Linked DNA regions of Homo sapiens. The protein of the gene in region 1 purifies or fractionates together with the protein of each later gene. This does not show direct contact. Each region holds a gene or a part of one and is shown in the gene's direction. Other genes may lie near its edges.

Region 1 (3,654 bases):
TATTCAGTGTTATACTTTCATGGTTATTGACTTTTTAGTTTGATTTGAACCATTTAAAAAGTAATTATCAAATTTTAAGTGGGTCTACAAATTTGGGCAAGATACTCATTTTCAGATATGTGTGCCATATATAAGGTGATATGATATTATTCAAAATCCTCTAGGTATTTTATTATTCCTCTCAGTGTACCTTTAAGTGGGGTATAAGGTGTACTTTGTATTATATCATGTTTTATTTCATAAAACACTTCTCATTAATAAATGGTTTTATAGTCGGGCTTCAGTGTGCTACTTTCTAGACAAAAACAAGAACCAGTGCTTTTATATGAAAATTTGCAGAAATTTTACAGATACTACTACAGGTATATAGCTTTTTAAAAAATTTTATTGCCAATTAGTTAATCATATATGGATCTTTGTAATGATTGTTCTCATTTTTGTTTTAGGTGGTCTTGGAGGCATTGGGATGGGACTTGGTCCGGGTGGACAGCCTATTAGTGCCAGCCAGTTGAACATAGGTGGAGTAATGGGAAATTTAGGTCCAGGTGGTGAGTATTCTAACTTCCTCTTTTCTTTTTAAATGATACATATGCTAGCTAATAAAGCCTCCATTGATGTGGTCTGTAATAATGTTTAAAGGACTCTAATTAATAGTTAGATATTTACGGTGTCACTTCATTCTGAAAAAGGAATGAAACCTTGAGCACAGCTAACATGAAAGAGATAGGCAGAAGTCAGGAGGGTTTCTTTGGGGCCAGCTATGTTGTAGCTAGCCTTTTAGCATTTTGGATTTTGAAATGTCTTGAAGGCAGAAGGAGAATATATCATCTATGAACAGTATTTATGGAGTAGCTGAAATGCTACCATATCATAGGCAGCTAAAATCTGTTTATCCATTTGGGAAGGTGGCTTTTCAGGTAGTTATTTGGCTGCTCACCTGGAAGAACTCACAGTTCATTTTTAGAGATTGGTTTTTAAACTTTGGTGTTAGGACCCTTTTATATTTTAAAATTTGTTGAGAACCCGAAAATGCTTTGTTTATGTAGTTATAATTACCAGTATTTACTGTATTATAAATGAAAAATTAGAAATTAAAAAAATTACATATTAAAAAATGATAAACTCATTACATGTTAACATACATAAAAGTTTTAAGAAAATAAACTATTTTTCAATGCAAAAAAGAAATTGGTGAGGAGAGTGGCATTGTTTTACCTTTCCACACATCTTTTTAATGTTTGGCTTAATATTGCTGTTATATCTGTTTCTGCACTTTAGTTTTTTGTGATATTGTACATCATATAGTGTTTGGAAAATTACACCTTAAACTCAAGAGAATGAGGGTAAAACATCAAATAATGTCTTAGTAGTATTTGGTGACTTAAATAGTTTTGACCTATTGAACCCTCAAGAGTCCCTGGACCATACTTTGTGAATTACTGTTTTAATTGATGGACTAATAAATGCTATCAGATTCCTATTTTGTCAAGATGCTGTAGTCACACTTTAAATTATGAGGCTCATTATCATAATCATTCTGATCCAAACAAGTTTTCTCCCTTACCCTTAGACTCTCACACCTACCTACCCTCTCCTAAATACATACTATTTATATTTTGAAAATTTTTACTGCTCTTTTAACTGCGATGTTTAGAGAGTCCTTACATTCTGGCCTGATCTCTAAATCTGCTGTAATGCTATTTCTGTGTCTATGCTGGAAAAAAAAAATCATTGATAGTAGTATTTCTGTGTTTATTGTGGAAAAAAAAGTGAATGATTACCTAGTTCAAGATATTCTCTAACTGAATGTTGTGGGTGTTACTAGTGAATTTTGCTTTCTTGTCTGATAAATGTTCAAAGAAACCCTTTTGAAGATTCATGATTAGACAGCTGCTATGGCATAGCACTTTAAACCATGCCTCCTGTACCCTACCGCTTCTCTAGTGTTTCATTGTGGTTATACCAGTGGTATCTATTTTGCTATAATGCATTATATCATCTTTTAGTCATAAAAATAAAATATACTTAAAGTACATACTGTGTATTTTATTTGAGGTATGGGAATGGATGGTCCAGGTTTTGGAGGAATGAATAGAATTGGAGGAGGTATGTATAAAGATTTGTTTTTTTGTATGTACCCATCACCATTTTTAATAAACTAGAAACTGTGTTGAGAATTCCATGAAAAAAAAGTCATGGTTTATTGTTGGCTCATGTTCTAAAGGCTGCTAGCAGAAATTGAGCCTGGTACATACTTAAAGGAAGGTGATGTGTTAAGAAGTAGCTGCACAAGGTAGGGTGGATGAAGAGCTTACTGGTGAGATTTAACATTTACAAAACGTACCTTTCAGCTACATGACTGACAGTTGGATCTCAAAATTAATCTTTATTCCATAGGAATAGGGTTTGGTGGTCTGGAAGCAATGAATAGCATGGGAGGATTTGGAGGAGTTGGCCGAATGGGAGGTAGGTAAATGTATGCAGTGGGAAGTGTGTGCATATTTAGTTTTCCCTATTATTAATATTTCCCCCCTATAACTTAGGAATGTGTGCTAAAAATGTCTTCAGAAGGCATATAGGCACTAGGGGATAAGGACAGGCCTGGGGAATGGGGATGATATGTGTGGCATGTGAGGTAAATTGGGTAAATGACAGACTATTTTATATTTGTGACTTACGCGTCTTTTCATAATTTAGATACATTCCTGAATGTTTTCAACATGTATTGATATATTTGAAAAGGTTAATTTGTTGCACAATTTTTTCAGAGCTGTACCGTGGTGCGATGACTAGTAGCATGGAGCGAGATTTTGGACGTGGTGATATTGGAATAAATCGAGGCTTTGGAGATTCCTTTGGTAGACTTGGTAGGGCTGGCTGCATACTTCTCCTTTTCTTTTTGTAGGCTATAATTTTTGAAATTTGGTTTCTCTTTTTTTGTGAAAAATCAGAAAATCATAATGTTTTATACAACTTATTACCTGAAGAAAACACTTTAAGGATTTTAATATGCTAGCTCTCTTTTTCAACATCTTACATATTTGAACTCTATTTTCAGAAGACTTTATGCTTTTCATTTATTGTAAATCAGAGCACATAGTACCTTGGGAATTTTAAAGTATGATTATTTAAAATTAATTAGTATATTATCTTTCCATCCTTGTTTAGGCAGTGCAATGATTGGAGGGTTTGCAGGAAGAATAGGATCTTCTAACATGGGTCCAGTAGGATCTGGAATAAGTAGGTTTAAATTTTACTAGAATTTATTCAGTAATATTTGAGTGCTTGCAAAGACTTTGCAAGAGTAGTTATCGTAGTATAGTAATACTTTGTTCTTATACGTTAATGTGTCTTGCTATAATTTGAGAAACCTTGATAATTGAGCAAAGCCTTTCTGTTTGATTATTGTTTGAAATTTCTAAATTAACTGTTTGAATTTTACTTTTTTGATATTTCTAAACTATGTGTTAACAGCCAATCCAGGAACCTTCTTTCCAACTAAGGAATCTGGGGATTTCTCTGATCATGTTTCAGGAGCAACTTTTGCTTTAGCACCAACTTTGTTTCCTTGCTTATTTTCTATAATAGCTATTAGTGACTAGCTTATTTTATTTGTAAACATCTATGTCTTTTGGTAAATGCAGATATAGCACT
Region 2 (3,654 bases), on another chromosome or scaffold:
GAGATCGAGACCATCCTAGCTAACACAATGAAACCCCGTCTCTACTAAAAATACAAAAAATTAGCCAGGCATGGTGGTGGGCGCCTGTAGTCCCAGCTACTCGGGAGGCTGAGGCAGGAGAATGGCGTGAACTCAGGAGGCGAAGCTTGCAGTGAGTCGAGATAGTGCCACTGCACTCCAGCCTGGGTGACAGAGTGAGACTCCATCTCAAAAAAAAAAAAAAAAAAAGATTGCTTCTGGTGACGGAAAAATGAATATTGTGTGTTTTCTGCTCTCAAATAAATCATAGTATTCAGACTGTCATTTGATGTCTTTATCAATGTTATCAGAGGAAAGGGGAAACTTTGAGGGGAAGTGTTTTGGGGAAACTATTGGAGTTACTTTTCAGATGATTCTGGATCTTTCTTAATTTTATGGACTATTGGAATTCCAGAATTAAAAGCTACCTTGGGATGATCCAGTATAACCTTGCACCTGATAGTAGTGTTTTCTTATACCATTTCTGCCACGTGGTTACCCAGTAGCTACTTGTACATGCTTAGTAATATGCCAGCCATTTCCATTACAGGTTTAGTACCCCTTATCCGAAATGCTTGGGACCAGAAGTATTTTAAATTTTGGATTTGTAAAGATTCTGGAATATTTGCATAGACATAATGAGATATCTCAGGGATGGGACCCAGGTCTAAATATAAAATTTATTTATGTTCTTCCTTGTTGGTATAGTGGTTAGTTTTTTTTTTTTAAGGTATTTTATTTATGTCCCATATACACCTATAGCCTGAAGGTAACTTTATAAAATATTTTAAATAATTTTGTGCATGAAACAAAGTTTACCTTAAGTGCTTATGTGTGGAATTTTCCACTTGTGTCATAATGTGGGCTCTCAAAAAGTTTCAGATTTTGGAGCATTTTGGATTTCAAATTTTCAGATCAGAAATGCTCAACCTGTATTAGACACTGGAAGCCTTAGAAAATTCTCCTTACTGTAAGCCCCAGTTTACTACCTAATAACTACCACCTAGTTATATCTTCTGTGCAACAAATATGGTCACTGCACATGGGTGCCCACCTGAGGAGGGCAGGGGCTGAAACCCAGCTTCATTCTGCATGTCAAACCATGCACCTGCAGGACTGTAGAAACGGCTGGTGCCGTTTTCTAATTGGCACAGAGCTGCTGTATGGACTAGCTGGAGGTCTAACAGCAAAGGAAGTATTGATATATTCCCTTCCAAATCACAGGCTTTACACAATACAACTAGGAGAAGAAAGCCAAACTAAAATTCAAATGTACTAAATTTTTTTCCTATCTCTGGGTGACTTTGGGCAAATCATTGAATCTTTCAACCTCAGATTTATTATAAGTAAAATAAAGTAACACCTCTCTTAACCTACCTTAATGGGTCCAAAAGCTCATGTTGACAAAACGGTTCTCTGACTCACTGTAGGGTCAGAATTACTGGCTGTGACTGCACATAGGAGAATCATTTCTAATTTTTATAACATTTTGCTTCACAGGGAGGCTGAGAAGACAAAACTCCTTATAGCTGCACAGAAACAAAAGGTTGTGGAAAAAGAAGCTGAGACAGAGAGGAAAAAGGCAGTTATAGGTACTTGGATTTCTCTGAAATGATTGTCTCTAAGTACATTTGTTTGTCCTGTTCTTTGTCAGTCTCATTTTGGGTATCATGGGACTCAGTAAGATTGCATCATAGGTAGTGGGGAATTCTGGAATCTCCACTGTACATTCAGATGTTCTAAAGCCTTTAAAAGTAGGTGAGACCAGTACTTAATGATGTGCTGTGGCTGTCCATCATGTTGTTAGATGCTACTGTTGTCTCTTTCAAGAACAGGGAGAATGGATAGGGTTTATAGGCAGCTTGAGTCTGTGGATAGCATTTTCATTTGTACAGATTAAGAATAGGGAAGTTTTTTGACCAAAGTTTCAGATTGTAGTATGCATCCTTGTTGTTGACATGCACTTAGTTTTACCTGGATAGGTAGTGCCGTTTATGAAAGCATGGCAGGATTGTTTACAGTTCATTTCAGATTACAGTGGCTTCCCTTATACTCCAGGTCACTGTGTATTAGATTGCCCTCTTTGGCCCTCGGTTGATGCTGAAAGTTTAATACATCTTTAATTAAATAATTCAATTATAGAGGAATGTACAGAGAACAATATAATGAAAGCTTAAGATTTTGCCTTATTCCCTTCAGATCTTTTTTTTTTTTTTTAAGAAAAAAATTAAATATCTGTTTGAAGCCTCCTTTGTATGTTCACTGGTCCTACTCTTTGACTTTTCTTCTCAGATTAACTTCTATTCTGAAGTTGATGTATATCCTTTCTGTCCATATTTTTATACTTTTACTGTAAGTGTGTAAGAGTTTATAAAATTGTTTTACCTGTTTGAAACTACAAAAATGTTACCAAACTCTTATTTTACAACTTGCCTTATTTTCACTAACATTGAGTTTTATTCATATTGATACATGTAGATCTAGGGATTTTTTCTTTTTTTGGCATTTTATCCTTATTCTCTGTGAGATGGTAGATCGTTTATGTTTAGCTGCTACATTTTTCGTTCTATGAGCGGGCCTAGTTTTATTGTAATGAATTACCAATGAGGAGTTAGGTAGTTTCTAGTTTTTCCTTATTACAAACACTGCCACAATAACATTCTTATCCAGTGCCTCCTGGATACAGTGTACATGTGCAGGTTTCCATAGAGTAGCATTACTCAGTGTATGGTGTGGGCCAGTGCCCTATCACCAGCTTTTTGTTTCTGAGCCTCAATGAGATGAGTATAGAAATTGAGAATGAGTGTTTAGAAGTTTTTATAGCATTTTAATACAGCAGTTTTATGTCTGTTGAATCAAAAATAAAAAATCAGAGCTTATATATTTATGTTTTTGTTTTTTAATTTCTTTTTTCTAGTACTGTAATTTGTTTTTGTTATAGTTTACAATTTATTGGTTCCTCATAAATTGAAATACACACACAAAAAGGTAAGGTATTTTTCCACAGGTGGTTTGAGAAGCACTGCTCTAGAATAGCTATCTCAAAGTAGAATTGATGGGTCATAGGGTAGCATGTCTTCACATTCAACATATTGACAAATTGCTCTCTCAAGTACTTCTTTGATTTTACCATCTCTTCAACAATATTTGATATCCAGTTTCTATGCTGCCATATTTGAATTCCCATTTCCACACATCCTTCTTGGTCCTTGGAGTTATCAGACTTAAAACTTTATGTCTGTTTAATGGAAGACATGGTATCACATAATTTCAATTTGAATTTCCCTGATTGTTAGTAAAGTTGAATATTGCTTATTGGTCATTCAAGTTTCCTTTTTTGTTGTTGTTATATGAATTGCCTGTTAATGTCCTTAGCCCATTATTTGATTGCTTTTTTGAGTTGATTTGTAAGAGTCCTTTCTGTCTCCTGGATACTGATCCTTTTTCAGATTTATGCATTTCCAACATCTTTCAATTTGTGGCTTGTCTTTGAACTTTACAATGTCTTCGATATACATATATGTGTAGTTTTTGTGTAGACAAATTCATTAGTCTTTTCCTTTATGTTTTGTGCTTTTCCTATCTTAAGAATTCTTTCCCTAGTCCAAAGTAAGACTTTTATTCTAAAAGTTTTAA
Region 3 (3,654 bases), on another chromosome or scaffold:
ACTCCAGGTATGGAGGCTCCACAATTATCAGGGACTTAAGCTCCCTTTTTCCTTTTGCAACGTATTTTGTTGCTAGTGTCAGCCTTAGCCTCCCTCCCTTTAAGAGGGAGAAGATATGTAACTAGTAAAGCTCTAAGGCAAGGCCTCATGGTCCAGAATGACTGCTGGAAGTCCAGCCATCACATCCATATTTGAGTCAAGAGGAAAGGATTGGGCAAAAGAGACTCATTTCATCTCCCAATTATGTCAGCCTTTTAAAAATATCTTCCCAGAATTCCTATCCAATACTTATGCCTACAACTATGACCAAAAGTTAGTCATATAGTCATACTTAGTTGTAAAAGAAAGGCTTAGCCGGGTGTGGTGGCTCACACCTGTAATCCCAGCACTTTGGGAGGCCGACGCAGGCAGATCACCTGAGGTCGGGAGTTCAAGACCAGCCTGACCAACATGGAGAAACCCCGTCTCTACTAAAAATACAAAATTTGCCGGCGTGGTGGCGCATGCCTGTAATCCCAGCTACTCGGGAGGCTGAGGCAGGAGAATCGCTTGAACCCGGGAGGCGGAGGTTATGGTAAGCCGAGATCGCGCCATTGCACTCTAGCCTGGGCAACAAGAGCGAAACTAAAGAAAGGTTGAGAAATGTAGTCTTTTGGGGCAATTTTCCCCTTCCAAAAAATTGGGGTTCTATTAATAAGGAGGAAGAGGAGAATGATTTTGGCTAAATAAACTGTAGTATCTACCAAAGATGAAGAGAGCCATAGGTTTCCAGAATAGTGGGAGAGCATATTTTTTTAGAAATAAATATTCTTGGCTGGGCATGGTGGCCCACACCCATCATCCCAGCACTTTGGGAGGCTGAGGTGGGAGAATTGCTTGAGGCCAGGAATTCAAGACCTACCTGGGCAACATAGTGAGACCCAGTCTCTTTTTTTTTTTTTTTTTTTTTTTGAGATGGAGCCTTGCTCTGTCGCCCAGGCTGGAATGCAGTGGCGCCATCTCGGCTCACTGCAAGCTCTGCCTCCCGGGTTCACGCCTTTCCCCTGCCTCAGCCTCCCGAGTAGCTGGGACTACAGGTACCCACCCCCATGCCCGGCTAATTTTTTGTATTTTTAGTAGAGACGGGGTTTCACCATGTTAGCCAGGATGGTCTCGATCTCCTGACCTTGTGATCCGCCTGCCTTGTCCTCCCAAAGTGCTGGGATTACAGGTGTGAGCCACCGTGCCTGGCCTTCCAGTCTCTTTTTAAAAAATTATTTAAATATATTTTTATTTTTGTAGAAATGAGGTATCGCTATGTTGCCCAGGCTGGTCTTGAACTCCTGGGCTGAAGCAATCCACCTACTTTGGCGTCCTCCCAAAGTGCTGGGATGAGAGGCGTGAGCCACTATGCCCAGACTCAGAGACCCTGTCTTTAAAAAAAAAAAAAAAGAATGTGGCTGGGTGCAGTGGCTCACACCTGTAATCCTAGCACTTTGGGAGGCCAAGGCAGGCGGGATCACCTGAGGTCAGGAGTTCAAGACCAGCCTGGCCAACATGGTGAAATGCTGTCTCTACTAAAAATGCAAAAATTAGCCGGGTATAGTGGTGCACACCCATAGTCCCAGCTACTCAGGAGGCTAAGGCATGATAATCACTTGAACCCAGGAGGTGGAGGTTGCAGTGAGCTGAGAGTGTGCCACTGAACTCCAGCCTGGGCGACAGAATGAGACTCTGTCTTAAAAAAAAAACAAAAGGAAAGAGAGGGAGAGAAAGAAAAGGAGAGAAAGGAAAGGGAGGAAAGGGGAGAGGGAAAGGAGAGAAGAAAGGCGAAAGTAATGGGGAAAGGAAAAGGGGAAAGGGGAAAGAAAGGGGAGAAAGGGGAGAGAGGACAGGAAAGGAGAAAGGAAAGGAGTCTTACTTGGTCTGCTTTATTCATTGACTTAAATAACTTTGATACTTTCTGGCCCATTTAGGTGTTTGCCATTGTACCCCCACTCAGAATGACTGATGCTGTGCCATGCACATAATAAATGTTCCTGATGCTGGGGTTTGCATTGGCTGGGACTACCTGAGAATTGGTCTGACTCCATCAGCGCCATTGCTGGTGGAATGTTTCATTGGGTCATGGCCTCTGAAGTATCTTTATTTCCATAGGCAATCTTGCTGCCAATGATCTCTCCCCGTCCCGAATAGCCAGACTACAGAAGATCCTTCACAGCTATGTGCCTGAAGAGATCAGGGATGGAAATCAAGTTCGAGTTACCTCATGGGATGGCAGGAAATGGGGAGAACTGGAGGGGGACACCTATGACCGGGTGAGTGATTCTTGATTTAGGACATGCATCCAGCTTAATGCGGCCTCCCCATCCTGGTTCTAGGGCCTGAGGGGTTAGGATCCAGCCCCTATGTTTGAGCATGTAGAGCTGTTTCTGGACTGGCCAGTTCTACATTGGTGATTTGACCAAAAGAAAAATCAGCTTAGATGACTGGTTATTATCTCTATTAAAGATAGTTGGCAGCAAAAAAGAATTTGAAACTATTTGAGTAGGGGAAAAATTTACTAGGCTTACTTTATTTCTCAAGTCACTTGGTTGCTCAGAAAGCCTCATGAAGGTAAGTAAGAATAAGCTCATTTATTTATTTTTGAATGTTAGTACAGCACATGGTACAAAATTCAGAAGGCACAAAAGAGTATCCAATGAAAAGTGAGTTTTTCTCATCTGGCCTGTAGCCCCCTACTTCCCCACCCTATAGATAACGATTGTTTCTTTTTTTTTTTTGAGACGGAGTTTCGCTTTTGTTGCCCAGGCTGGAGTGCAATGGCGCGATCTCTGCTCACTGCAGCCTCCGCCTCCTGGGTTCAAGCAATTCTCTGCCTCAGCCTCCCGAGTAGCTGGGATTACAAGCGCCCACCACCACGCCCGGCTAATTTTTGTATTTTTTTTAGTAGAGACGGGGCTTCACCATCTTGGCCAGGCTGGTCTTGACCTCCTGACCTCGTGATCCACCCGCCTCGGCCTCCCAAAGTGCTAGGATTACAGGCGTGAGCCACTGCGCCCAGCCGGTAGTATATTATATTATACTCACTATTCTGAACTTTGTATTTTTTTATTTAATAATGTGTCCTGGGGTTAAATCCTTTTTTAATTTTGTTGACATTGTGGAAGTATAGTTGTTGAATAACAGTTTACATCCATTTAAGATTTTGATAGCGATTGCTAAATTTCTCTGTGGAGGTTAAACCAGTTTCACTCCTACTGGTAATGAATGAGTACTGATTTCCCACATGCTGCCAATATTGGTGCTATCAAACTTAATTTTTTTGCCAAATGGATAGTATCTAATTTACAATCTCTTATTAATCATGTTGAAAATCTCCATATTAATTTTTTTAAAGTTTTTTTTTTTTGAGTGGCAGGTTTTCACTTTGTCACCCAGGCTGGAGTACAGTGGTGTGAACACGGCTCACTGCAGCCTCAACCTCCTGGGCTCAAGGGGTCCTCCTGCCTCAGTTTCCCGAGTAGCTGGGACTAGAGTGTGCCACCATGCCCAGCAAATGATTTTTTGTAGAGACGGGGTCTCACTATGTTGCCCAGGCTGGCCTCGAACTCCTGGGCTTGAGCAGTCCTCCCACCTTGTCCTCCCAAAGTGCTGGGATTATAGGTGTGAGCC

The links.
Region 2: the proteins of MYEF2 (region 1) and ERLIN1 purify together in Homo sapiens (affinity purification with mass spectrometry; one large-scale study listed by BioGRID and IntAct). This does not show direct contact.
Region 3: the proteins of MYEF2 (region 1) and NSUN4 purify together in Homo sapiens (affinity purification with mass spectrometry; one large-scale study listed by BioGRID and IntAct). This does not show direct contact.

What each region holds. Positions count from the first base shown.
Region 1 is NC_000015.10:48,150,686-48,154,339, reverse strand, and holds part of MYEF2 (myelin expression factor 2), read left to right. Parts: intron 1-446; coding exon 447-548; exon of another isoform or gene 549-2,033; intron 2,034-2,055; coding exon 2,056-2,106; intron 2,107-2,397; coding exon 2,398-2,466; intron 2,467-2,768; coding exon 2,769-2,867; intron 2,868-3,168; coding exon 3,169-3,240; intron 3,241-3,654. UniProt on the Homo sapiens protein: Transcriptional repressor of the myelin basic protein gene (MBP). Binds to the proximal MB1 element 5'-TTGTCC-3' of the MBP promoter. Its binding to MB1 and function are inhibited by PURA.
Region 2 is NC_000010.11:100,161,960-100,165,613, reverse strand, and holds part of ERLIN1 (erlin-1), read left to right. Parts: intron 1-1,518; coding exon 1,519-1,610; intron 1,611-3,654. UniProt on the Homo sapiens protein: Component of the ERLIN1/ERLIN2 complex which mediates the endoplasmic reticulum-associated degradation (ERAD) of inositol 1,4,5-trisphosphate receptors (IP3Rs).
Region 3 is NC_000001.11:46,350,732-46,354,385, forward strand, and holds part of NSUN4 (5-cytosine rRNA methyltransferase NSUN4), read left to right. Parts: intron 1-2,136; coding exon 2,137-2,297; intron 2,298-3,654. UniProt on the Homo sapiens protein: Mitochondrial RNA cytosine C(5)-methyltransferase that methylates cytosine to 5-methylcytosine (m5C) in various RNAs, such as rRNAs, mRNAs and some long non-coding RNAs (lncRNAs).